Linked DNA regions of Homo sapiens. The protein of the gene in region 5 purifies or fractionates together with the protein of the main gene of each other region. This does not show direct contact. Each region holds a gene or a part of one and is shown on either strand. Other genes may lie near its edges. The genes, in order: EDNRB, EDNRA, FAIM, ZDHHC9, GNA11, TMEM184C and SLC38A12.

What was found.
Region 1: the proteins of GNA11 (region 5) and EDNRB purify together in Homo sapiens (affinity purification with western blotting, with the first as the bait; one study listed by BioGRID). This does not show direct contact.
Region 2: the proteins of GNA11 (region 5) and EDNRA purify together in Homo sapiens (affinity purification with western blotting, with the first as the bait; one study listed by BioGRID). This does not show direct contact.
Region 3: the proteins of GNA11 (region 5) and FAIM fractionate together in Homo sapiens (co-fractionation; one large-scale study listed by BioGRID). This does not show direct contact.
Region 4: the proteins of GNA11 (region 5) and ZDHHC9 fractionate together in Homo sapiens (co-fractionation; one large-scale study listed by BioGRID). This does not show direct contact.
Region 6: the proteins of GNA11 (region 5) and TMEM184C fractionate together in Homo sapiens (co-fractionation; one large-scale study listed by BioGRID). This does not show direct contact.
Region 7: the proteins of GNA11 (region 5) and SLC38A12 fractionate together in Homo sapiens (co-fractionation; one large-scale study listed by BioGRID). This does not show direct contact.

The regions. Positions count from the first base shown.
Region 1 is NC_000013.11:77,916,032-77,919,965, forward strand, and holds the start of EDNRB (endothelin receptor type B isoform 1 precursor), read right to left. Parts: upstream 2,801-3,934; 5' UTR 2,594-2,800; coding exon of another isoform or gene 2,543-2,593; coding exon 2,060-2,542; intron 1-2,059. UniProt on the Homo sapiens protein: Non-specific receptor for endothelin 1, 2, and 3. Mediates its action by association with G proteins that activate a phosphatidylinositol-calcium second messenger system.
Region 2 is NC_000004.12:147,542,776-147,545,454, reverse strand, and holds the end of EDNRA (endothelin-1 receptor isoform a precursor), read right to left. Parts: 3' UTR 501-2,679; downstream 1-500. UniProt on the Homo sapiens protein: Receptor for endothelin-1. Mediates its action by association with G proteins that activate a phosphatidylinositol-calcium second messenger system. The rank order of binding affinities for ET-A is: ET1 > ET2 >> ET3.
Region 3 is NC_000003.12:138,625,771-138,629,270, forward strand, and holds part of FAIM (fas apoptotic inhibitory molecule 1), read left to right. Parts: intron 1-3,336; coding exon 3,337-3,386; intron 3,387-3,500. UniProt on the Homo sapiens protein: Plays a role as an inducible effector molecule that mediates Fas resistance produced by surface Ig engagement in B cells.
Region 4 is NC_000023.11:129,805,887-129,809,386, reverse strand, and holds part of ZDHHC9 (palmitoyltransferase ZDHHC9), read left to right. Parts: intron 1-2,900; coding exon 2,901-3,017; 3' UTR 3,018-3,500. UniProt on the Homo sapiens protein: Palmitoyltransferase that catalyzes the addition of palmitate onto various protein substrates, such as ADRB2, GSDMD, HRAS, NRAS and CGAS. The ZDHHC9-GOLGA7 complex is a palmitoyltransferase specific for HRAS and NRAS.
Region 5 is NC_000019.10:3,093,212-3,097,161, forward strand, and holds the start of GNA11 (guanine nucleotide-binding protein subunit alpha-11), read left to right. Parts: upstream 1-1,150; 5' UTR 1,151-1,440; coding exon 1,441-1,576; intron 1,577-3,950. UniProt on the Homo sapiens protein: Guanine nucleotide-binding proteins (G proteins) function as transducers downstream of G protein-coupled receptors (GPCRs) in numerous signaling cascades.
Region 6 is NC_000004.12:147,623,897-147,627,396, forward strand, and holds part of TMEM184C (transmembrane protein 184C), read left to right. Parts: coding exon 1-68; intron 69-165; coding exon 166-202; intron 203-907; coding exon 908-1,113; intron 1,114-3,500. UniProt on the Homo sapiens protein: Possible tumor suppressor which may play a role in cell growth.
Region 7 is NC_000017.11:74,775,064-74,779,298, reverse strand, and holds the start of SLC38A12 (transmembrane protein 104), read right to left. Parts: upstream 2,801-4,235; 5' UTR 2,722-2,800; intron 2,036-2,721; 5' UTR 1,969-2,035; coding exon 1,924-1,968; intron 1-1,923. Other genes in the region: NAT9 (alpha/beta-tubulin-N-acetyltransferase 9), read left to right, coding at 3,586-3,677.

The DNA.
Region 1 (3,934 bases), on a different chromosome or scaffold from region 5:
TTATATCTGTCCTGGAGGCAGCACACCAGAACTAAAAAAATGTTCTCAATCCCACCTTCTACACAGCACTTCAGCTACTGTCTGATTTAGAAAGGTTTCTAACTGGGCTGGACATGTGGGGTTTCCTGACCCCCTAAACAGAACTTTCATAAAATCCTGTGCCAACCTAGCAAAACTAGATTTTAATCTCCCTTTGGGAAGAGATCTTGTTAGATTTATTTTAAATTTATCACAACACCTTGTACTGAAAAGTTCTCAATTCGGTTTTGATGAATTGAATTGAAATTCCTTTGCCAAATTAGAATGGGAAGATTTAGTTTGTGGGACGCCTTAAGAAGTAAAAGGGTCACTTCTGGCCCTCATGGAGTTGTGGCTGCATTTAGAGATTCAATTTCAGCTCTTACCAAGTAAATCCTCACAGTTCATCAGAATCAATTGCCATACAGGATTTTAGGATTTCTTCAATCGATTCCCCCATTTCCGGGGGTGATTCCCTTTAGAGAAAACTATATCCTAATCCACTCTCACCGCTAAACCTCAGAAATGTTCGGAATTCCCCTTAAAATATAGCTATTGGGTTAGGATTTTTAGAGATTTATGAAGGGAAATTTACAGGCATGCCTTATGGTAACTACTCCTGCCAATAGGTCAAAGCATTCCCTACAACATTTCCCAACTTTACATTCCATTTTTTTCCCCTTGTACTGAAGTACTGAAGTCAGGGCTAGCTATAGGCAAATCTGCAAAGCACAATTCCATTTCCTTACACTGTGATTGTGTTTTTATGTGCAACTTTCTATTGCTGCTGCTGCTGCTGCTGCTGGGAAAGTTTTAAATATTTTCATATGTCTTTGAAATTTTCCAACTGTTTTATTTAGACTGCTTTTTTTTTTTTAACACCATAAAGCCTCAGTAAGTGGGCACTGGCAGCCTTATTGTGGAATTGAGGAAACTGAGGCCCAGAGGTGCTGGGATGTGTCTGGAGTTCCAAAGCAACCTGGAGCAACCTGGCTCTTTGTGTGTTTCTACTGACGCCCATGGTAATCACACAATAATGTTAACTACCGAAACCCTTACAGATTTTGAGTGCTCCTTGGTCTTGTCCATGAAATAATTGATGGGGTGCCATCATATAGCTTGCACTTTGGAACCTGACAGATTGGGTCTGATCCCCAGCTCCACCTCTAATTCATTTACTTTGATCATCCTACCAGTCATCTGTAAACTAATTGTAATATCTACTTGTGGGCTGCTGGAAGGAATAATGGAAGTAACACATCTCACCCAGTCCTTGGCCCACTGTAGATATTTAATACAAAGTAGCTACAGTCCGTCACAGCAGGTGAACTGTGTTTTTCCTACTCACCAGTCTGGATCTCTTTTTTCCAGGCCATTTATTTCCTAAATACCTACTTTGTACCTGCTACTTTCAAAGTCTTCCAAAACAGTCCTTCCCAAAGTTAGTGGGCATATCAATCACATGAAGATCTTAAGATGCAGATTCTAACTTAGTAAGTCTGAGGTAGCCTTGCATTCCTAACAAACTCTCAGGTAATATTGATGCTGACTGTCCATGGACCACACACTTTTGACTAGAGGATGTACCCCATTAGGTGCACTTAGGGACTAGATCCTTCAGGACTAGTGGTTCTCAAACTTTACAGTTCATCATAATCACATAAAGGGCTTGTTAAAATACAAATTACTGTGCTCCACTCCAGAGTTTCTGATTCAGTAGGTCTGGGGTGAGGCCAGAAAAATCTTCATGTGCACCAAGTTCCCAAAGTGATACTAACATTGCTAGACTGGGGACTACGCTTGTCCTAAGCTTAGCAGAGGTCTACTGAAGACCTGAATGGAATTTTATTCCAATGGTTACTGACTTTTATGAGTGGACAGAACCAAATGGAATTTGGTTCCAAAGATTACTGACTTTTAGGAGGGGCAGAACCTTAAGAGGGAGCTAAAGGGAAGCTCCCTCTACAAGCTTTCTCATCTCCCCGTCTCCAACCAGGCCCCCTTCCTCAAGCCCACCATGATTTCAGCAGGCGCCCTTTACCTTGTAGACATTGATAGGGATGTCAATGACGATGTGCAGCAGGTCTCCCAGAGCCAAGCTGGCGATCAAGATATTGGGACCGTTTCGCATGCACTTGTTCTTGTAGATAATTCTCAGAAGTGTGGAGTTCCCGATGATCCCCAGCACGAACACAAGGCAGGACACAACCGTGTTGATGTATTTGAAAGTCTCCTTGATCTCGATGGGTCCTTGGCACGGGGGAGGGGAGATGGTGCGTGGCGGAGATCCTGCCGTCCTGTCTCCTTTAGGCACCTCCGCAGGTGCCAACGACCGCGCCAGACTGGCGTTGGAACCCTTGGGCCATAAGGTCTTAGTGGGTGGCGTCATTATCTCTGCGGTTTGCAAAAGCGGAGTGGCCCTGTCAGGCGGGAAGCCTCTCTCCTCTCCCCAGATCCGCGACAGGCCGCAGGCAAGAACCAGCGCAACCAGGGCGCGTCCGCACAGACTTGGAGGCGGCTGCATGCTGCTACCTGCTCCAGAAGGCGTCCGGTGGCCGCTCCGCAGTTTCAGAGCCTAGAGACAAGCAGAGGAAGGAAGACAGGACACTTGGGTCAGCTGCCCGAGCCAAGTCGCTGCAAACGCTAATACCGCCCGCAGCCTCTTCGCCAGTATCCACGCTCAAAAGTAACTCAAGTTTGCGCGCCAGTGGGAAACTTGGCGCTCATGACTCGCCAGCGCGGGTCGAAACTCCTTCCTGATGCCCTCTCAGCTGTTTTTCTTCCCCCGCGTGGCCAGGAGGGGTAAATAATATGCAGTGGGGCGGGGCGTTCTGGAAGGGGTGTGCCAGGGAGGGAATGATGGGGGTCCCAGGCAAAGCTCCGAACTCTTTCACGTAACGGGAGGAATACAGACACGTCTTAGTTAAGCGTGCGTGGGAACCGCGGAATTAAGGCACCTAGAGGCCAAGGGCTTGTGTCAAGCTCTGCATTTTGCCCCGCAGGGGAACCTCTATACCCCGCGATTGAACTCGAAAGACTCCTCCCGGCGGATGAAAGCCGCTACTCCCTGGCTGGCTGAGCTACAGCTCCCGCAGCGCGCCCAGGAGTGCGCCGGAGATTCGGAAACCCGCAGAGACTTCTCAAGTCAGCAGGAACTTGGAAACCGCTGTTCCCTCCAAACGGCTTCAAACACTCGCGCTCCTTCCTTTACCCAACCTAATTTTAATTTGCCCTCTCTATAGGCTTAATTTTTATTTTTTTAAAATCCCAAACTAGTAAGCCAAACCGAAGCCCCAGAATAAGGTTCAATCAATGATTTTAATTCAACACCAAGCCCGAATGTTTACCTCTCGGATCTGACAAACCAGATGCAGAGCGACGAATGGAGACCACCTTCCCGGGAGGCGGAACCCAGCTGGGTTCCAGCCTGCTCTGGGAGAGGAGCACGCCTCCCTTGAGCTGCAGGCGGGTCCGGCTCTGACGAAACGCTGCGAGAATGCCAGACAGTGTAGCCTCCACCGTTTGCTCGGGGTCTCTGCTGCCATCAGACAAGTACTTTTATTCATTCATCCCTTCCCATCAATCACCGCCAGACTCCTCCCGCGCCTTCCGACCCCGCTGCAACCTTTCCCCTTGGGCGATGCCTGGACAGCATCAGTAGTAGTTGCCCGAGGGAGGGGGGCAGTCCTCGTCCGGGGACAGGTCCCAAAAGGCTGTTTATTTGTTAGAGTTCTACGCTCTTCAAATGAACCCAAATCAAGGGCAAGTTATCACGCACCATGTGACACCCGGCAGCTCCAGACTAGAACAAGGCTCTGCACTGAACGTGATAATTGAACTTTTAATGCCAAGTGTCACTTTTCTTTCAGGTAAATGTTCCGCCGCTGTGATATTTAAGGTTGGTTTGTGGGCGCTG
Region 2 (2,679 bases), on a different chromosome or scaffold from region 5:
TAAAAAATGGGACTGTCTATAACTGAGCAGAGGAATATTAGGCAGGGTAAGCTGGAAGATATCAGGAGCTTCATTCTGCATATATTATGGTGTACTAGCCATCCAACTGTGGATGTCAAGTAAACAGTTGGATATATATGAATCTTTTCCTCCAGATATCTACCTAATATATTGCTTATTGACTGTAACTGTTTATTGCCTAGAATGCAAGCTCCATGGAATCAGGGACTTTGCCTGTTTTGTTTACTATGTCCCCAATATCTGGAAGAATGCCTGGTGCATAGTAGATGCCCAATTAAACTTACTGAAAAGGTAAATGAAGGAATGAATGACAGAGTTAAATGCTCAGTACAACAAAATAGGTTGGTTGAGAATAGAGGTAGGAAGTACCTGTTTGATAGTAAACTGCTTTCCAGGATATTACTAAGGAGAGGTTTGCAACAGGCATTATGTAACAAACATTTTCTATGGAAAACTACATAAAAATGAAGAGACACTTGCAAGGTTTCTGTAAACTTTTATTTTACACTTATGGGCCACTGCCAACTCAGGGCCTTGGCTTCTGGCTCATTTCTACAAAGTTACTTGTTGAAAAGATGTAGTAAAGGTAGAAATTGGAAATATTCCTGCTAGTAAACCACAGTTACTTACCAGTCCATAAATAAAATGCACGTTGACGCCTTCAGAAATCTATGACTTTCTGAATTTATAAAATGCATTTTTTTCATATGAAAGAAACAAAGCATCTTGAAAAAAAGACAATTGTCTAAACAAAATGGTGTGAACCTATGGCTTATATTATAGGCATATATCACTGCATATGATGCGCCAGTGGAATAATAGATTTGACTGCTAACACACAAAAGGGCAGTACTTCTTAGCCTTGCAATTCAAGCAACTGGAACCTGATGTTATTTTACCTGTCCTAAAATATGGCCCAACAAATTATCTTACCTAATTTATTATCAGCAATCTGTCTGGCGAAGTCTGAAAGAAATATCAGACAACCTGGCAATTTCATCACCACATTGAATTGAGGATAAGAACAATATAATACTTCAAAGTGTAATGACTTTTGCTCCAGCACAGGAAACAATATGACCCCAAATACTGCTTTATCAAACCAACCAACCAAACAAAACCCTATATTGCTAGTCCACAGCTCATCTGCTTTCACGCTGCCTCTTATATCCCATTTGTAATGGTAACATGATTACAAGATTTATGAATGCAGAAGGTTGCTACAGGTTAAAATGGACTGAGGCAGGTTGTCATGATGAACAATCACCTAGATTTTACTCAGACTATGCACTTTGGCACAACTGCGGGGCACAATTATTAGATTAGATTAAATCCATACATACCATCACACACATGCATATATCACACACACAAATATATTCCACAGAGACAGTCTAGAAAAATGGGCTAAAAGAAATTTACAATTGTTTATATATATACACACACACACTAGTAAAAGATTTTCTGCTGTACTCACAGTCTGTAAACATCTGGGAAAATGCCCAGCAAAAGTCACTGTGGGCCCTTTGAAATGGTGACAATGTGGGAGGGAGATGTTGGGGTGGGGAGTTAGGTTCATACTGAAAACCCCAAGAAGTGAAGAATCGTAAGTTCTGGTGGCATTTGTGGGTAATTATTTTTCACTGACATGATAAACTCATCTGGCCACTTCAAAATTATGTTTCCTATATGGAAAAGGGAATGATCAAAAAAGACTTACTGCCAGTTAACATTTTAAGAAAAATTAAGAGAATAGGAGGTGATATGTATATACATATATATGTCACTATTACAAATACCTGAATGAAAATTTCTGAATCATCTGAAAAATTCGATCTTTTTCTCTTAGGTGTGTTTTAGACTTCTATATACAGTGCACTGAAAGTCTCAGGCAGAGTTAAATGACACATACATTAACATTTTGGTACTTGACATTGATTTTTCATACAAAATTTACATGAAAAACAGATTGAACTTGTGAAAAAGAACTATCTGATTGAAGCATTACTTTTGAATTTAACATACAAAACATGTTCAAGGTCCCTTGTAATAAAACACCATTTAAAAAATAAAATACAGTTCTTAAAAAATTCTTTGAGTAACATCTATTAAACTGCCAAATGTGTCATCAGACTGTGCTTTAAGGGCCTGTAGTATTTGTTGTAGCTTTAGAATTTGTGTTTTAAAAAAATAAACAGTGACGTGGAAAATACTAATCTAATTGCTCACCTGAATACTATTTTTGTCTTTTTTTTTTCAAACTATGTGTAAATAAGTTCAAATAATCATGTTAGGCTATTATGCAGTTAAAAAATACTGGCACCAAATGACATTTCAAATAAAAGTGACTTGAGCCCATATTGTGTTTGGCTGAAGGACAAAAAAATCACTTAAAAAAAGTAGAAAATCTTGTCGTTAATCTCTAAAGTTTCATGGTGACCAGTTCCCATTGAACATTCACCAGAACTGCCATAAAAGCTAGCCATGTACTTGAAAGCTCTATTTTCATGCAAAAGTAGTAAATATCCTTCTGGTTTCATTTAACAGTCTTCATTCTCCCCCAGCTCCCACCATTTTTTAGTGCTGAATACAACACGCAGAATATGTAAATTAGATCAATTAAAGAAGTACGATTCGTAGATGTTGTGGGTGGATAAA
Region 3 (3,500 bases), on a different chromosome or scaffold from region 5:
TCATCTTCATTTGCCCCTGAGGAAATGGAAGCTCAGAGTGGTGGTGACTTGCCAAAGGGTACTGCTAGTAAAGAGTGATGCTGAGAGCTGACCTCAAAGATCATGTGCATTTTTTTTCACCACCTAAAAAATGTGAGGCATATAAGGGCAATGAAAACAGGGTTGGTTAGCATTCTCAGCTCTTGTAGTCTCCACACCACTGAATACCATGGGAGGAAAATAAAGCTGGCAGGAGGAAAGTACATATGAAACTTCACGCTGGAAGGAAATTCTCTTTCTGTTCTGAAAAGTTTCTCTTTGATAGCATTTACAGAACATAACCTGCTCAGGACTCACCTGGGAAGTCCCTAGCTATTGTTCATGCGGCTGAGGGAATCCGCAGGCAAAGAGGAGATGCTCCAAGATGAACATGCAGCAGCAACTCCCATGAGTCACTAAATCCAGCACTGAGTCATAATAGATTTGAAATTTTATCAGCTAGATATGTCCTTTTATTAACATACCACTTTGAATAGGTTACATACTCAAGATTCAGAAATCAAAATGCTATTAAAAGACACATTAAAAAGTCTTGCTTCCATCCCTGTTCCCATCTGCCATGTTCCCCCATCAAGATAACCATTTTTAGTGTCACTCTAGTGTTTCTTTATTCAGATTCAAGCGAGTACACATATTCTCTCTTACCACATAAAAGCATCTTGCTTTATTCACTTATTATATTCCGAAGATCCTTTTATATCAGAACCTAAAGAACTTTTTCATATTTTTTATAGCTGCAGAGTAAATTTCAATAGTAAATGGTGTATTTAGCTCATTCCCAACTGATGAACACTTGAGCTGTTTCTAATCTTTTGCTGTTAGAAGCAATGCTGCATGAATAGCTTTGTTTGCATGCCTCTTGGAACAGGACACATATTATATTAGTACACATTTCTGGAAGTAGGAAAGTAGGACTTCTATTCTTCTGGGTCAAAGACTAATTGTATTTGTCATCTTAATAGATTTTGCCCATTTGCCTTCCATGGTACTTTTACCATTTTGTACCCCCGTTAGCTATTTTCCCCAGGTTCTCCAGCAGAACATGTAGCCAAACTTTTGGATTTTTTGGCATTCTGCTAGGTGAAGCAATGGTATTTCAGGGTTGTTTTTGTCTTTTTCATAAGTGAGGTTGAGCATCTTAGTTTTAAGTTTCTTTTGTATTTCCTTTCTCATGATGCCTGTTCATGCCCTTTGCCCCATTTTCTTTTGGTTGTTGGTCTTTTTCTCCTTGATTTCTCATAGTCTTCACATTAGTAAGTTTAGTCCTTTGTTCATGCTGTGAGTTTGACATATTTTTTTCAGAGTTTGTCATTTATTACATGACTTTGCTAATGTGTGTGCATTTTTCTTCAATTGTGCTGTGGCTTTTTTACTTTTTTTTTTTTTTCCCAAGACAGGATCTCACTCTGTCGCCCAGGCTGGAGTGCAGTGGTGCAATTTTGGCTCACTGCAACCTCTGCCTCCTGGGTTCAAGCAATTCTCCTGCCTCAGCCTCCTGAGTAGCTGGGATTACAGGCGCCCGCCACTACGTCCAGCTAATTTTTTGTATTTTTAGTAGAGACGGGGTTTCACCATGTTGGCCAGACTGGTCTTGAACTCCTGACCTTGTGATTTGCCTGCCTCAGCTTCCCAAAGTGCTGGGATTACAGGCATGAGCCACCGTGCCTGGCCTTTTTTTGTACTTTTATGTAGTCAAATTTAATACATTTTCTTTTAGGGCTTCTGGATTAGTAGTGTTCTTCAGAGGCATGCTAATACGCTATTGTAGAAACTCTGAGTACACGTACATGTTCAGTAAGCATAGCAAGTAAAATACCAGTTTCTACCATCATCGTGGTTTATCATAGCACTGTGTGCACTGATCATGTCTTGGGACAAGTTGAGTTTACCTGCACCTGTGACTATAGCAGCTTTCTATGAAGGCTGCCACTGAGGTGACCCCTGCCCATATCTCCTGGACCCCTCTGGCTTTCTCTTTTTCCATCTAGCGCACCTCAAAGGCTTTTCTCCCATCTCTAAGTGAGGCTCCCATCTCAAGGTATGGGGAGAGAAAGAACCCCCTTTAGACTGTGCTCCTGGAGCAGATGGCCAGGCAGTAAGACCCTGGACTGGTGCCTCAAACCTGACCCCCAGACTCCTTGTGCACATACAGGCCATACTTCCTTCTCTTCTTCACTGTAATACCCAAAGCTCAACTTCTGGCTTCTTGATTAGTGTAGTCTTCTCTCCTGCTACTCCTGAGGACACTAACATTTGCAAGGGGCTCTGGGGACTCCTCCACCCTGAGATGAGCTATGGCAAGTTAACTGATCCATTTAAGTGTGTCGGGGCAGCATTTTGTTCCATATTGTTCCTTAGTGTGCAGTCCACCAGCTATACCTATTTTTTACTTGTAATCCAATAATTTTTCTCTAAACTGAAACCATTATGAAAAGGAATAGACATTATTGTACTACCTAGTAAGAAGCTGGACTAGATTTCTAAAGCGGACATGCTGTCTATCCTATATAAATCCCGTGGCAGCTGCTTTCAGTGGTCTTTTGTGCCATCACCCAGTTGGGTGAGTGTGGGAGGCAGGGGAGTCATCTGGTCAATATTGAAGGGCATTTTGTATGGAAGGGTCCCTCCTCACATTCATCTGTATGCATCCTTCTTTTTTATTTATTTATTTATTTATTTATTTATTTATTTTTGAGATGGAGTCTTTCTCTGTTGCCCAGGCTAGAGTGCAGTGGTGCGGTCTCGGCTCACTGCAAGCTCCACCTCCCAGGTTCACGCCATTCTCCTGCCTCAGCCTCCCAAGTAGCTGGGACTACAGGCACCCACCACCATGCCCGGCTAATTATTGTATTTTTAGTAGAGATGGGGTTTCACCGTATTAGCCAGGATGGTCTCGATCTCCTGACCTTGTGATCCGCCTGCCTCAGTCTCCCAAAGTGCTGGGATTACAGGCGTGAGCCACCGCGCCCGGCCTGTATGCATCCTTCTTTAAAGATTGTCCTTTTGGATTCATTTTGTTTCATAAGGCTTCATCAATTTGTATTAAGACCATAACTTTCTCTTAAAAGGTTGTTTTGTTTCATTATAGTTTTATGAACAAAGAACAAACACAGCTTCTTCAAATTTTAGGAGAGTCTGCAAGCCATGAAAGCCATGAAAAAGTGTTGGGTTTTGGAATATTAATGGAGTTTTAGAGATCTGGTATATCAATCCTTTCCTAAAGTAATAAATAGGAAAAGTTAACTTTATCTTTAAATCACAGAATTATAACTTAAAGTTTTTATGTTACCTTTACAGAAAAAGATGCTATGGACGTATGGTGCAATGGTAAAAAATTGGAGACAGCGGTAAGTTGACTATTTGATGACTCTAAGTGCCATGTGTCTCAGTTACCATTGAATTGTTGCTGCATTTCCTAATTATAGAGATCTTATAATGAATCAAGGCCCTCTTGATAAAAA
Region 4 (3,500 bases), on a different chromosome or scaffold from region 5:
ATATGGCCAAATGATATTCCATTATATGGATATACCACATTTCATTTATCCATTCATCAGTTGATGGACATTTGGATTGTTTCCACCATTTGATTATTATGAGTGATGCTGCTATGAACATTTGTGTACCAATTTTTGCATGGCCATATATTTTCATTTCTCTTGGCTATATACCTGGGAGTAAAATAGCTAGGTCACATGGTAGCTCTATGTTTAACCTTTAAGGTACTGCTGAACTGTTTTCCAAAGTGGCTGCACCATTTTATACCCCCACTAGCAGTGCCTGAGGGTTCCAGTTTCTCTACATCCTCTGCAACACTTATTATCTGACATTTTGAGTCTAGCCATCTTAGTGAATGTGAAGTGGTATCTCATTGTGGTTTTGATTTGCATTTCCCTGATGACTAATGATGTCGAATATCTTTTCATGTGCTTATTGGCCATTTTTATGTGCTCATTGGAGAAGTGTCTGTTCAGAGCTTTTGTCTATTTTTTAATTGGATTGTTTGTCTTTTTTATTGTTGAGTTGTAAGAGTTCTTTATGTAATCTGTATGCAAGTCTCTTACCAGATATACAATTTGCAAATATTTTCTCCTATTCCATGGGTTATCTTTTAATTTTCTTGATAGTGTCCTTTGGAGCACAAAATTTTTAAATTTTGATGTAGTCCAGTTTGTCTATTTTTTTCTTTTGTTGTTTGTACTTTTTGGTGTCATATCTGAGAAACTGTTGCCTAATCCAAAGTCATGAAGATTTATGCCCTTGTTTTCTTGTAAGAGCTGTACAGTTTTGGCTCTTACATTTAGGTTTTTGATCCATTTTGAGTTAATTTTTATATATGGTGTGAGGTAGAGGGTCCACATTCTTTCTTTTGCCTGTAGCTATCCAGTTGTCTCTGCACCATTTGTTGAAAGGACTATTCTTCTCCCATAGACTTGTCTTGGCACCCTTGTTGAAAATCTATAAATGTGAGAGTTCATTTCTGGACTTTCAGTTCTATTGTATTGCTCAATATGTCTGTTCTTATGCTAGTACCACGCTGTCTTGATTACTTTAGCATTGTAGTAAGTTTTGAAATCAGGAAATGTGAGTCCTCCAACTTTATACTTCTTTTTCATGATTGTTTTGGCTCTTCTGGGTGCCTTAAATTTCCGTATGAATCTTAGGATCAACTTGTCATTTATGAAAAGAAGCCAGCTGGAATTTTGATGGGGATTTCATTGAATCTATAGATCAATTTGGGGAAATATTGCCATCCTAACAAGATTAAATATTCTGAGCCATTTACATGGACTGTATTTTCACATATTTAGGTATGATTTGATTTCTTTCAACAACATTTTGTAGTTTTCAGAGTATAAGTTTTACACTTTTGTTACATTTATTCATAAATATTTGATTATTTTTCATGTTATTGTAAGTGAAATTGTTTTACTAATTTCATTTTTGGATTTTTCACTTGGAGTGTATTGAAAGACAATTGATTTTTATATATGGATCTTATACCCTAAAACCTTGCCAAGCTTGTTCATTAGTTCTTTTTTGTTTGTTTTTGTTTTTATTTTATGAGATGGAGTTTCGCTCTGTTGCCCAGGCTGGAGTGCGGCAGCGCCATCTTGGCTCACTGCAACCTCCACCTCCTGGGTTCAAGTGATTCTTCTGCCTCAGCCTCCCAAGTAGCTGGGATTACAGGTGCCCACCACCACACCGGCTAATTTTTGTGTTTTTAGTAGAGACCGGGTTTTGCCATGTTGGCCAGGCTGGTCTCAAACTCCTGACCTCAAGTGATCTACCCTCCTCGGCCTCCCAAAGTGCTGGAATTATAGGCACGAGCCACCGTACTCGGCCCTTGTTCATTAGTTCTAATAGATTTTTAGTAGTTTGAACTTTGTTTTAAAATAGAATCATACTTTTTTTTTTTTTTTTTTTTTCTGAGACGGAGTCTCGCTCTGTCGCCCAGGCCGGACTGCGGACTGCAGTGGCGCAATCTCGGCTCACTGCAAGCTCCGCTTCCCGGGTTCACGCCATTCTCCTGCCTCAGCCTCCCGAGTAGCTGGGACTACAGGCGCCCGCCACCGCGCCCGGCTAATGTTTTGTATTTTTAGTAGAGACGGGGTTTCACCTTGTTAGCCAGGATGGTCTCGATCTCCTGACCTCATGATCCACCCGCCTCGGCCTCCCAAAGTGCTGGGATTACAGGCGTGAGCCACCGCGCCCGGCCAGAATCATACTTTTAAGTGAATTCTTTTTATAAGGTAGATAATAGTTCTCTACTTTGCCTTTCCTAAATTTTGAATTTCCTTTTAAAGTACAGCAACCCGTGTTTATATATTATTGTTGTCATTTTTAATATTATTTTTTAAATGAGTCTGGACTCAAATTGTAACAATCTAGGTTAGTTATTCTTGGTTCAAAGTGGAGAAGGGTGGTATTTTAGAATCACTTGGGGACATTTTCAAACCACATATGACCAGCTGAAAATTTGGACACTTGGCCTTCTTTGGTTCAGAATCACTATTCTAATGAGCTGTGTGTTCGGGCAGAAACACGATTGAGGACCATTGGGTCAGGCCTTGTTACATAAGTATGTTATGACATTTGTTCTGAAGTGGGGAGGACCTGTGTAATTATTTGTGATTCCTATTATTATGACTATTAATAATAATAGAAAAATCTGTCCCCAACCAACAGTTAAGGATCAAACTCAAATAAACTTCAGTTGTGTTCTGCCGAGAAGACGATAGCTTGGTGTTGGTTCTGAGTTTGGTGTTGGTGGCTGCATATCTGTAGCATCAGTGTGATCAGGGGGCTGAGAGGAAGAGTTCAGTGTCTAAGGTTTATCTGCATTTGGATTTTGAGGAACAGCTTTGTGTTGAATCTCATATCTTTTCCTTCTCAGGCCCCCACAGAACACCTGAACTCAAATGAGATGCCGGAGGACAGCAGCACTCCCGAAGAGATGCCACCTCCAGAGCCCCCAGAGCCACCACAGGAGGCAGCTGAAGCTGAGAAGTAGCCTATCTATGGAAGAGACTTTTGTTTGTGTTTAATTAGGGCTATGAGAGATTTCAGGTGAGAAGTTAAACCTGAGACAGAGAGCAAGTAAGCTGTCCCTTTTAACTGTTTTTCTTTGGTCTTTAGTCACCCAGTTGCACACTGGCATTTTCTTGCTGCAAGCTTTTTTAAATTTCTGAACTCAAGGCAGTGGCAGAAGATGTCAGTCACCTCTGATAACTGGAAAAATGGGTCTCTTGGGCCCTGGCACTGGTTCTCCATGGCCTCAGCCACAGGGTCCCCTTGGACCCCCTCTCTTCCCTCCAGATCCCAGCCCTCCTGCTTGGGGTCACTGGTCTCATTCTGGGGCTAAAAGTTTTTGAGACTGGCTCAAATCCTCCCAAGCTGCTGCACGTGCTGAGTCCAGAGGCAGTCACAGAGACCTCTGGCCAGGGGATCCTAACTGGGTTCTTGGGGTCTTCAGGACTGAAGAGGAGGGAGAGTG
Region 5 (3,950 bases):
CCTGATGGACAGCAGGCACTCCATTAATCTCTGGTCCGTGCCTGGCATATAGAATGTGTCCCATTAATGCCTGATACACAGTAGGTGTCCCATTAACGCTTTTTAATTTTTTTTTTTGAGACAGAGTCTCGCTCTGTCGCCCAGGCTGGAGTGCAGTGGCATGATCTCAGCTCACTGCAAGTTCCGTCTCCCGGGTTCACGCCATTCTCCTGCCTCAGCCTCCCGAGTAGCTGGGACTACAGGCGCCCGCCACCACGCCCGGCTAATTTTTTGTATTTTTAGTAGAGACGGGGTTTCACCGTGTCAGCCAGGATAGTCTCGATCTCCTGACCTCGTGATCCACCCGCCTCGGCCTCCCAAAGTGCTGGGATTACAGGCGTGAGCCACCGCGCCCGGCCCTCTTTTTTTTTTTTTTTCTTTGGAGACGGAGTTTCGTTCTTGTTGCCCAGGCTGGAGTGCAATGGCGTGATCTCGGCTCACTGCAACCTCCGCCTCCTGGGTTCAAGTGATTCTCCTGCCTCAGCCTCCCGAGTAGCTGGGATTACGGGCGTGCACCACCACGCCGGGCTAATTTTGTAGTTTTAGTAGAGACGGCGTTTCTCCCTGTTGGTCAGGCTGGTCTCGAACTCCAGACCTCAGGTGATCCGCCCGCCTCGGCCTTCCAAAGTGCTGGGATTACAGGCGTGAGCCACCGCGCCCGACCTCCATTAACGCTTTTTAATGGATGAGTGAAGGTTCCTGTCAGGCAATGTCAGGGCGCTTCCCGGGGGCAGCGACTGCTGCCCAGGCACCTGGAGACCCAGAGAGCGCAGCGGCCGCGTGCGCGCCTCCGCCACCGCGCCTGGGCCGAGCCGAGCGGGACCGAGCGGGGCCGAACGGAGCCGAGCGGAGCCGAGCCTGGCCGGGCCGAGTCCGCCACATTCCCACAATCCCGGGCGGCCCCGCCCCGGCTCCCGGCTGCGCGTCCCCCTTCCCACGTCGGCGCAACCAAACCCGCGGGCCCCCCGCCCTCGCCCCGCCCCGCCCCTTTCGCGCCCGCCGACGCCCCGCCCAGGCCGCTAGTCCCGCCCCCATGGTGGGCGCGCTTGGCCGCCGGCCCCTCCCATTGGCCGCACCGTCTGCCCGTCGCGGGCTGCGCTCCCAGCCTGCTAGGTTGTCCGGCGCTGTCGCTCGGTTGCGGCGGCTGCGGTTGGCGGTGGCTGCGGCGGCGGCGCGGGCTGAGTGCGGCCGCGCGGGAGTCCGCGGCTGGCGCGGCCCGAGCGGGGACCCGGCGGCTCGCCAGGCGGCGGCCGAGGCGGGGCGGGCCGGCCCGGGGCCGAGGGCCGGTGGCCGAGGCCGGAGGGCCGCGGCGGGCGGCGGCCGAGGCGGCTCCGGCCAGGGCCGGGCCGGGGGCCGGGGGGCGGCGGCGGGCAGGCGGCCGCGTCGGCCGGGGCCGGGACGATGACTCTGGAGTCCATGATGGCGTGTTGCCTGAGCGATGAGGTGAAGGAGTCCAAGCGGATCAACGCCGAGATCGAGAAGCAGCTGCGGCGGGACAAGCGCGACGCCCGGCGCGAGCTCAAGCTGCTGCTGCTCGGTGAGTGCGGCCCCCGGGCCTGCCGGCTGCGGGCCCTGCCCTGCCTGTGCCTGCCCTGCCTGTCCGGGTCGGGCCGGGACCCTCCGGGGTCAGCCCTGCCTGTGCCGTCCGGGTCGCGAGACCCTCCGGGGTCAGCCCTGCCTGTGCCTTCCCTGCCTGTCCGGGTCGCGGGACCCTCGAGTGTCAGCCCTGCCTGTGCCTTCACTGCCTGTCCGGGTCGGGGCGGGGCCCTCCGGGATCAGCCCTGCCTGTGTCGTCTGGGTCGGCTCGGGACCCTCTGGGGTCAGCCCTGCCTTTGCTGTCTAGGTCGGCACCTGGGACCCTCCGGGGTCAGCTGCGGGCCCCTGATTTCTTTGGGGTCAGCCCCTGCCTTAACTGTTCATGTTGGCACCTGGGACTCTCCGGTGTCAGCCTGTGTCTGTCCTGTCTGGATCAGGCCCCCGATCACTCCTAGGTCAGCTCCCAGCTTCTGCTGTCTACATTGGGCCTCCAGGACTCTTCAGGATTTGCCCTCTGTTCCTTCTCAAGGGACCAGTCCCTCCCTGCACAGGGACCTTCTGACCTTACCCCACCGGAGTACCCACCCCTCGCTACCCCTTCAGGGCCAGACCTTTGGGCTGTAACCCACAGGGCACACTCACCCCTCACTGCTCAGGGCCCCGCGTTGACCCTTCCCTCCAGGCAGAGCCCTGTACACTCCATGCAGGCCCTGTACCCTCCATGCAGGCCCTGTACACCCCCCCATCCCCCCGAAGACTCCTCCGTGTCCCCTATCCCCACATTCCCTTCAGGGCCATTCTCCTGCCTTCCTGTTCCGGGAAACCCCGTACTCCTCTTGGCTGGAATGCACCCTGTGGGAAAAAGACAGTCTTTCCTCTCCTCAGGGTTCCGCTCAGCTGAGGGTGGGGCGGTTGACACCTGAGGGAGCCTTTGCTTGTTGTCCCAAGCAGCTATCTCGGCAGCCTCCCCCGCCCCCTTCCTTAGAGTCCTGGTGGGAGCCACGCTGAGTCCTCGTTGAGAGCAGCCCCCCACCTGCCGGCTCCTCCCCACCGTCCTGGAGAAGGTTTGCTGGTGAACCTCCTTCTCCCCAAGGCACACCTGCTGCAGGGAGCCAGTCGGGCCAGCTGTAAAGTGTTGTCACTCCAAATAAGGGCCCCTTCAGTGGTTTACAAAACAGAAGCTCTTGCCCTGCCCCGCCCCTGCCCTCCCGAGCTCCTAGGTTAGCTCCTGGGCCGGGGGCGGGGCGGTGGGGAAGGTCGGAAATGCGTGAGAGGCAGCGGTGACGGAGGAGGGGGCGTGCTGGTGGCGGTGGCTCTTGGGGAGGAGGCAGGTCGCATGTTGTGTGGGGAACACGTTGCCTCTCCTGCCGTGAGCCTCTTAGGGCCCTCCGTGTCCCGGGTTACAGAGGTGCCTTGGATGAAACGCCTTCCTGATTTTTTTCCCCAAACTTGTGTTTTGATTTACCTAAGGGTTCTAAAATGGGCCATCTTTCCAGGGGGCCGCGGGTAGGCAGAGCCGTGGTCCTCACGTTTGGAGGAAATGTGCAGTGCGGCCCGCGTGGTGGCACTTTGCACAGAGTGGCACTGGCTGGCTTTTGTAGTGGGTCGTGGACTTTGTTTGGATGGAGGGGAGTTAGGAATTACTGGTGTCATAAAGATCTTACCAGATGGCCTTGCCCTGTGGCTCTGTGACCTCCAGAACCCCCGCCGCCATCCCTGCATGCACCCGGTCTTCTGTGCCTGCACTTTGGACTTGAGATTGACACGGGGTTCAAGGACGAAGGTCAGGGGCTCCCGTGTCTGCCGCCTTGGCTGCTTGGAGCAAGTCTGGAAGTGATGCGGCCCTTCCCGCATCCTCTGTCCAGTGCCCGCCTGTGGCCCGGGGGTGTCTGCTGCAGGAGCACCTGTGTCTGCAGTCCCACCCCCTCCCACTCTGTGAGCCTGAAAGTTGACCCCTATCAGCCTGTAAGACGGGAGGTTGCTGTCAGGCTCAGGGCCAGGCGTGGCAGATAGGACAGTGAGGAAGATGTGAGCTCACGTGCGACCCAAGGAGGACTGGTGTCAGTGCCACGCAGAGAGCCGGGGCTGTCAGGGGGTTGGGAGGGCTTCACACCCAAGGTGTTGGAGCCAGGGACCCCTTTGGGAATCTGATGCGACAGACCCTCAGAAAACTTCCCGTCCAAGCAACCTTGCATCCCAGCTGGAGGGCCCCTTGCTGGGAGGACTTTGACCACCTGAGGTCCAGGGGCTGGGGCCTCAGGGTGCAGGGGAGGGGACCTCTGTCAGGCTCCCTGCCTGCTTGTGGGAACTCATTCCACTCTCCCAGTAGGCCAGCCCCGAGCTTGCGATTGCCCCCGTTTTTCAGGGAGCAGCTA
Region 6 (3,500 bases), on a different chromosome or scaffold from region 5:
TCACTGTGGGTGATATTGCAACACTTAGTGCATTATACACAACCTGAACTACAAAAACCAATAATAAGGTATGTCTTAATAATTTTGATTCCACTACTGTTGTGTTGGCTTATTTCATAAATATGACATAAAATGTTTTAAATTTCTGTTTTCCTTTTCCAATAGGATTCTTTGGATGGTACCTATTTACAGTTTAGATAGTGTAAGTATGTTTCATTTTTATCTCATTAACTAAGGACTTGTTTGATGATACTATAATTACAGAATGCTTAAGATAATGAAAGTATGTTATTGACAAGGAGTCAGATTAATAAGTAAAAAGGTTCACTTGTTTCTAATGATAGAGAATATAAAGTATAATTAAAAATGTAAAATGTTATATTATAAATGTTTAAAAATCTATAGCTGTTTGCTTTCTTTTAAACTTTCAGATTGTTAAAGAATGTAATATTTTAAATTAATATACTACTCTTTTTATTTATTACGTCTTTTATTTGAATCAAAAATTTAAAAACCTTCCCCAGTGGATACACATGAAATTGTTGTAGATGACTGCTTCTAATATGAGTAAATATTAAAGGAAATATCTTTAGCAGCATTATCTATGATCATATTAAGAAAAACTTCAGATTTAAGAACACAAGTACTTACTTTAGCTTCTCTCTTTATTCATTATTTACCCCTCAAACACTTGTTTTTGTTTACCAATATCTAAGATGTTTATTGCTTTTAAGCATTCATTTCACAGATTGATAGCCCTCATAATGATAAATTTTAGAGAGTCCCATGTAAGTATATGACAAGACATCTCAAGCATAAAAATTAGCTTATTGTGAGTACCATGAATGGAGTGGTGATTCATTTTATCTTAGCTGCAACTATCTTTAACATCTGTGCTTTTTCATAGTGGATAGCTTTGAAATATCCCGGAATTGCAATATATGTGGATACCTGCAGAGAATGCTATGAAGCTTATGTAATTTACAACTTTATGGGATTCCTTACCAATTATCTAACTAACCGGTATCCAAATCTGGTATTAATCCTTGAAGCCAAAGATCAACAGAAACATTTCCCTCCTTTATGTTGCTGTCCACCATGGGCTATGGGAGAGTAAGTATGTTTGGTTTAATTCTTTTATGTTTTGGTTTTTCATTTAAGCAGAGTTTTTAAGTAGCAATCAGCTCTTTACAAGGCAGTGCATTAAGTATTAATAGCAGAACAATAAGTATAAGACAGCTCCTGATGCAGTTCATAGTTGTTTGAAGGCTAACAAAACAGTTTTGTAATCCCACATATATGTTAGTCTTTTTTACATTATTAATCCCAAATCCAAAAATTAAAGTATTGCAGGTAAAAACAGTAATCATTTAATCAATATGCTTTTGCAGTTGAGAACCAAGGTCTGCAGATCTTATGTAAGAACACACAGCTAGTTAAAAGACATAGACAAGATAATGTAGGTTGTAGAACCACATATGATATGAAGTAGGAGCAATAAGTAACAGTGTTTGGTAACATAATACATCAGCTTGCCTTATTATATGTTCATGTAGGACATTAAAACTTATGTCATTTCATTTTGAAAAATAAATTGAGTTTACAATTGCATTTATTATAGAAATGAACCACTTGGTATTTTTCAGCAAGCAAACATTTGGAAACAGTGTTTTAGAAAGATTAATTTTGCAATATCATAAAGGATGAATTGGAAGGAAGAAGATTCCAGAGATGGAGAAATAAATTAGGAGTTTATAATAATCTATTTGTGAAATAAAACTGAAAAGGGGGATGAGATTGGAATAGAAAAGAAAGGCAATAAGAGAATGCAACTGAAAAATCAATAGGACATGTCCACTAATGCAACCGCCCAAGGGGTTCACTTTGCCAGCCACCTAGACAGAACCGATTCATCAAGACGGGAATTGCAAAAGATAAAGAGTAATTCAGACAGAGCCAGCTGTGCGGGAGACAGGAGTTTTATTATTACTCAAATCAGTCTCCCTAGGCATTCGGGGAGCAGAGTTTTAAGGATAATTTGCTGGGTAGGGGGAAGCCAGTGAGCCATGAGTGCTGATTGGAGAGAGGTGAAATCATAGGGAGTCAAAGCTGTCCACTTATACTGAGTCAGTTCCTGGGTGGGGGCCACAAGGTGAGATGAGCCCGTTTATTGATCTGGGTGGTGCCAGCTGATTCAACAAATGCAGGGTCTGCAAAATATCACAAGCACTGATCTTAGGAGCAGTTTAGGGAGGGCCAGAATCTTGTAGCCTCCAGCTGCATGACTCCTAAACCATAATTTCTAATCTTATGGCTAATGTTAGTCCTACAAAGGCAATCTAGTCCCCAGGCAAGGAGGTTTGCTTTGGGGCAGGGCTATTTCTATAGCTTTGGGAGAAACTATAAACTAAGTTTCTCTCAAAGTTAGTTCAGCCTACGCCCAGGAATGAACAAGGACAGCTTGGAGGTTAGACACAAGATGGAGTCGGTTTAAGTTATCTCTTTCACTGTCTCAGTCATAATTTTGCAAAGGCAGTTTCACTAATAAATGAGGAATAAGGTGGAAGTTACAAGCCAAGGTAAATGGAGGTAGAGTGATCAGTGTAGACATACAACATAAGAATGGGTGCATTGCCTCCTATGCAGTACAGGACCATTTGTACAACGTCCTGACAAATTTTGTCTCTATTTACACCCTTGAAATGACAGGGAGCTACCTGGCTTTTTAAAAAAATAAGCTACTAATGTGTTCATTTGACAAATATATGTTGAGCACCAAGTACGTGCTAGTATAAAGAAATACCTTAGTGCACAGAACAGACATAGACCTCATGGAACTTAGTTTGGTTAGGAGAGTTAGGAATTAAGACACAAATATATAGTTAGTTATTTCAGGAAATGCAATGAAGGAAGAAGGACAGGAGGCCATGAGAGAATAGTAATGACAAATTAATATAGATTGGTTATCAAGGGAGACAGATTGTGCTCAACTCTGAAGGCAACAAGGACAAATGGGCATTTATAGCTAGAGCATGTTGAGGGGGTCAGCGAATGCAGAATTACGAAGAGGGGACATCAGGGCTAGGAGGATTCTCACTAAACTGAACAGAATTCTTGCTAAAGGCAGGCCAAGGCCTTAGTCATCCAAGGTGGGTGCTGAGGAATTTGATCGGATGTCAAAGGTGATCAGATATCAAAGGGGGCTGGGGAATGACTTAGCAAGATTCTTTTAGATTGACTGACACAGGACAAGGACAAGGCCCAAGGATGAAGCCAAGTTGAAAAGAGGCATCAGAGGCTTGTCTAAAGTTTGTCTAAATGAGAGTCTTTGTCAAATGAGAAACCATTTATAGGATATTATGCAGAGAACCGGTATCTAAATTTCATTTTCAAAGATTACTGTGTTTTTTTTTTGAGATGGTCTTGCTCTGTCACCCAGGCTAGAATACAGTGGCGTGATCTCAGCTCATTGCAACCTCCACCTCCCATATTCAAGCAAT
Region 7 (4,235 bases), on a different chromosome or scaffold from region 5:
AGCGCACTGAAGCTTGCAGGCCTAACTGCCTCATTTCCTGTGGGCACATGCTGACATGTGAGAGGACCCCTTAAACAACCGGAGATACAAGAAATGGGGACATATCCAAGTGTTTTCCTTACAAAACTTAGTTACAGGGATGACTCATCTCCTTATCTCTAAATTTACAGATGTTGTAAGAAAAAGCAGGAGCCGTGGTGACTTTTACATTAATAGACAGCATAGAGATTTCATCACTGACAGCAGGAGGCTAGGAGCTGTTACATAATTCCACAAATGAGAGGGACACTATTTATTCCATTCCAGGGTTCATGAAAGACTTCACCTGAGAGGCTGGGTGCAGTGGCTCACGGCTGTAATCCCAGCACTTTGGGAGGCTGAGGCGGGTGGATCACCTGAGGTCAGGAGTTCAAGACCAGCATGACCAACATGGTGAAACCCTGTCTCTACTAAATACAAAAAATTAGCTGGGCAGGGTGGTGCATGCCTGTAGTCCCAGCTACTTGGGAGGGTGGGGCAGGAGAATTGCTTGAACCTGGGAGGCAGAGGTTGAACCTGGGAGGCAGAGGTTGCAGTGAGCCGAGATTGCACCATTGCACTCCAGCCTGGGCAACAAGAGTGGAACTCTGTCTCAAAAAAAAAAAAAAAAAAAAAAAAAAGACTTCCCCTGAGAAATTACACAGGTGATGGGTGAAGAAGGCTCCTTTATTGCCACACATGAATGGCACAGGCCCAATAGGAAGACTCTGGAATCAGGAAGGCTTTCTTCCAGCTGTGAAGGAAATGTCTTGGAGACACTTCCTTGTCCATCACACCACAATGCTAGTCTGTGAAGCTAGCAGAAACAGACCAGAGATCCCCAGGCTAGGAAGCTATGTACAAGGCAGGGCAGCTGTTGAAGGCAGGTCAAGTTCTAGAAAACTCTTGCTACTTAGGGCAGTGCTGCTTTTGCCTGGGAGGGTTGGTAGCAACCTGAGTCAACCATCTGATTATTCCAACCCTCTGGCTACTTATCCAGGCAAGAGGGCCCTGTGATGTAACAACTATGACCAATCATACGTTACATAGAGAAGATAAACTGCGTGTGTGTTGGGGGCAGCCAGAGGTAACACAGACCTAAGACAGTGAGAATCAATCATTCTAATTGTTCTAATTGCAGAGTCCACCAAACTGTAATTAGAAGTCTCTGTATGCTTTCGCTGCTTCTTACGCCATCCAAGACTATAAAAGTTGTGCAATTTAAAATTCAGTAAAGACCAAAGCGGTTTCCAACTGCTGAGATGAGCAAAACCCAGAGTCAACAGCTGTCAATCACTGTTCATCTGAAGGGCAGCACTGCAGGCAAGTGTGGTAGCCTGGAGATGAACATTATTTCTTTATTTTTGAGACAGAGTTTCGCTCTTTTTGCCCAGGCTGGAGTGCAACGGCTCGATCTCAGCTCACTGCAACGTCCGCCTCCCGGGTTCAAGCGATTCTCCTGCCTCAGCCTCCCGAGTAGCTGGGATTACAGTGCCACCATGCCCGGCTAATTTTGTATTTTTAGTAGAGACAGGGTTTTACCATGTTGGCCAGGCTGGTCTTGAACTCCTGACCTCAGGTGATCTGCCCGCTTCAGCCTCCCAAAGTGCTGGGATTACAGGCGTGAGCCACCGTGCCCAGCCCGGGATTAACATTATAAACAGCATGGCGATTTTGTTTGGCTTGACCACTCTGACAAACACCTTAAAAAGAGAATAAATCTGACTTACATTCTGAGCCACCACAGCAGCACTGTAGTCGCTGCCCCATGGAACTCCCCCATCCTGCTTCCACTATGGTCTGCTCAAGCAGCAGCACTCACTAGTCCCATCTCCAGCAAGCAATGTGCTTTTCTAGAAGCCAGGAACACTTAAGTGAGCAAAAGGTTCTATAAGTCACACTCACGTAGGAAGAGTAGAGTTCCCCGGTCTCTGTAATTTCACCCGCCATTTCCAAAAGTGAGGAAGGGCTGGCAGCAGAGGTTCCTTAGGTGCAAGGACGGCGGCTGCCGCAGCTCCTTAAAACAAAAGAGCAGGCTTCACCTATCTGATGGACTGAGACAGGGGTGGGAGGAGGCTTGCAGACTTCCCCTGCCACCTCTGGTTCTTTTATCACAGACACTTAGGGCCTCAGTATCTGTCACAAGACTCACCCCCGAGGGAGGGGTCACCCTGGATGACAGAAATCTGGACGGTTTCTTCTAACATTTCCCTTGCTGTGCAGGGCACTGCTCTGTGCCCAGCACGGATGTTTTCAATGCTGCTCGGGGTGCAAGTGATTTAAGGGGCCTCTAAAACCACTAAGTCTCACCCACCACAAGAGCCCCCTTTCCACGCTCTGGGGTGGTTATCCTCGTTTAGTTCCAGGAACCAGGAGCTCACTACCACACATGGGAGCCCAAGGAACTGTCTGCCGCCTCTGCCTAGGGCAGGGAGCTGGGGGCTTTCCTACATTGCCCTTCCAACTCCACTCTTGGCACTAAGGCCTCCTTTTTTTAATGGGGCCTCCACTCCCTGGCCCCACCTACTCTCTTAGGGTTCCCCACCCTCAAAGCTCCCTCTTTTCTCAAGAACCCCACTCCCAGCCTCTCCCTCTCTCTCCCTCCTGGAGGAGTCCCGAGTCTAGTGCCGCCCCGCCCCGCCCCAACCTATCCCGACCCGTCTCGTCCTCTCCCGCCCGTCCCGACCCGACCCGACCCAACACCTGCAGCACAGCCAGCTCCCAAGCCGCCGTCTCCCGCCGGTCCGCTGCTGCCGGCGCCAGCTGTCCAGCACCAGCTTCCGCAGCGCGCATGCGCCGGCCCCACAGCCCACCTTTTTCGCGCGCGCTGATTGGGCGCCTCGCGGGGGCGGGACCGGGATTGGGGCCTGGCGGCTGCCGTCAGCATGGCGGAAGTGGGCGGGGCGCGTTCTCACGCGCATGCGGAAGGGGCGGTAGCCGGCCGGGCCTGGGAACGTGGCTGGTTGGAGGAGGTAGATCACCCTTTCTGCGGGGGACGATTTCGTCGGTGGTAGGTGGGTGTGAGCTTGGCAGTACCCGGGTCCGCGTGGTTGGAGGGTCGAAGAGAGTGGTCTAGAACGCCACTCAAAGGGGAGGGCCTAAGACTAAGCCCGCCTTGCCCTGAAGTGGTCGGGGGCGGGGAGGGAGTGGCTAGAGCCCCGTGGGGTGGTCGCCGGGGTAAGAGGTTGGAAGTAGGTTTAAGGCAGGGCTGAAAGTTGATTCTGGGTTGGAATCCCTGGACTGGGGCAAGTAATGGGAGCTCTGGGGATACTTTGGTACTTGGTACTTGGTGCTTGGGTTTGAGGAATCGAAGTTCTGGGGAGTGGACGGAAGGAACCGGCAGAAACGGAGCCCAGGCTTGGCCTCTTGGAGTGGGAGTCAAGGATTGTTTAATTATCCTTAACCAGCCTGGTTCTCTTTCTTGCAAGAATTTTGGAGTCTGTATTCTTTGAAGTGTCTAGACGGAACTAATGACGGAAGTCAACTTAGCCCCAGCAGGAAAGCTGGAGCGCCTACCCAAAGTTGGAGGAAATTCAGGGTCCTGAAGTCTTTGCTCTCCCCATCTGCATGCAGGCTGCTACCATGAGGTTGAATCAGAACACCTTGCTGCTGGGGAAGAAGGTGGTCCTTGTACCCTACACCTCGGAGCATGTGCCCAGGTATCTTTCCCGCTTGACATGGGGTGCGTATCAGCACCCAGAGCTGTGTAAGGTACAGCCCCAGTCTCAGGGCTATTTCCCCTAAGAAGAAACATTGGTTGTGAGAAATAATTATATATGAGGGGGGAAAAAAGGCTGGGTGCCGTGGCTCACGCCTGTAATTCCAGGACTTTGGGAGGCTGTGGCAGGAGGATTGCTTGAGCCCAGCAGTTCGAGACCAGCTTGGGTAACGTAGCGAGACCTTGTCTCTACAAAAAAATACAAAAATTAGCCAGGCATGGTGGTGCACAGCTGCAGTCCCAGCTACTAGGGAGGCTGAGGTGGGAGGATTGCCTGAGCCCAGGAGATGAAGACTGCTGTGAGCTGTGATTGTACCACTGTACTCCAGCCTGGGTGACAGAGCAAGAACCTGTCTCAAAAAAAAACAAAAAAAACAAAAAAACAAAAACAAACAAAAACAAAAAAACGGCCGGGTGCGGTGGCTCACGCCTGTAATCCCAGCACTTTGGGAGGCTGAGGCGGGTGGATCATGAGGTCAGTAGTTCAAGACCAGCCTGG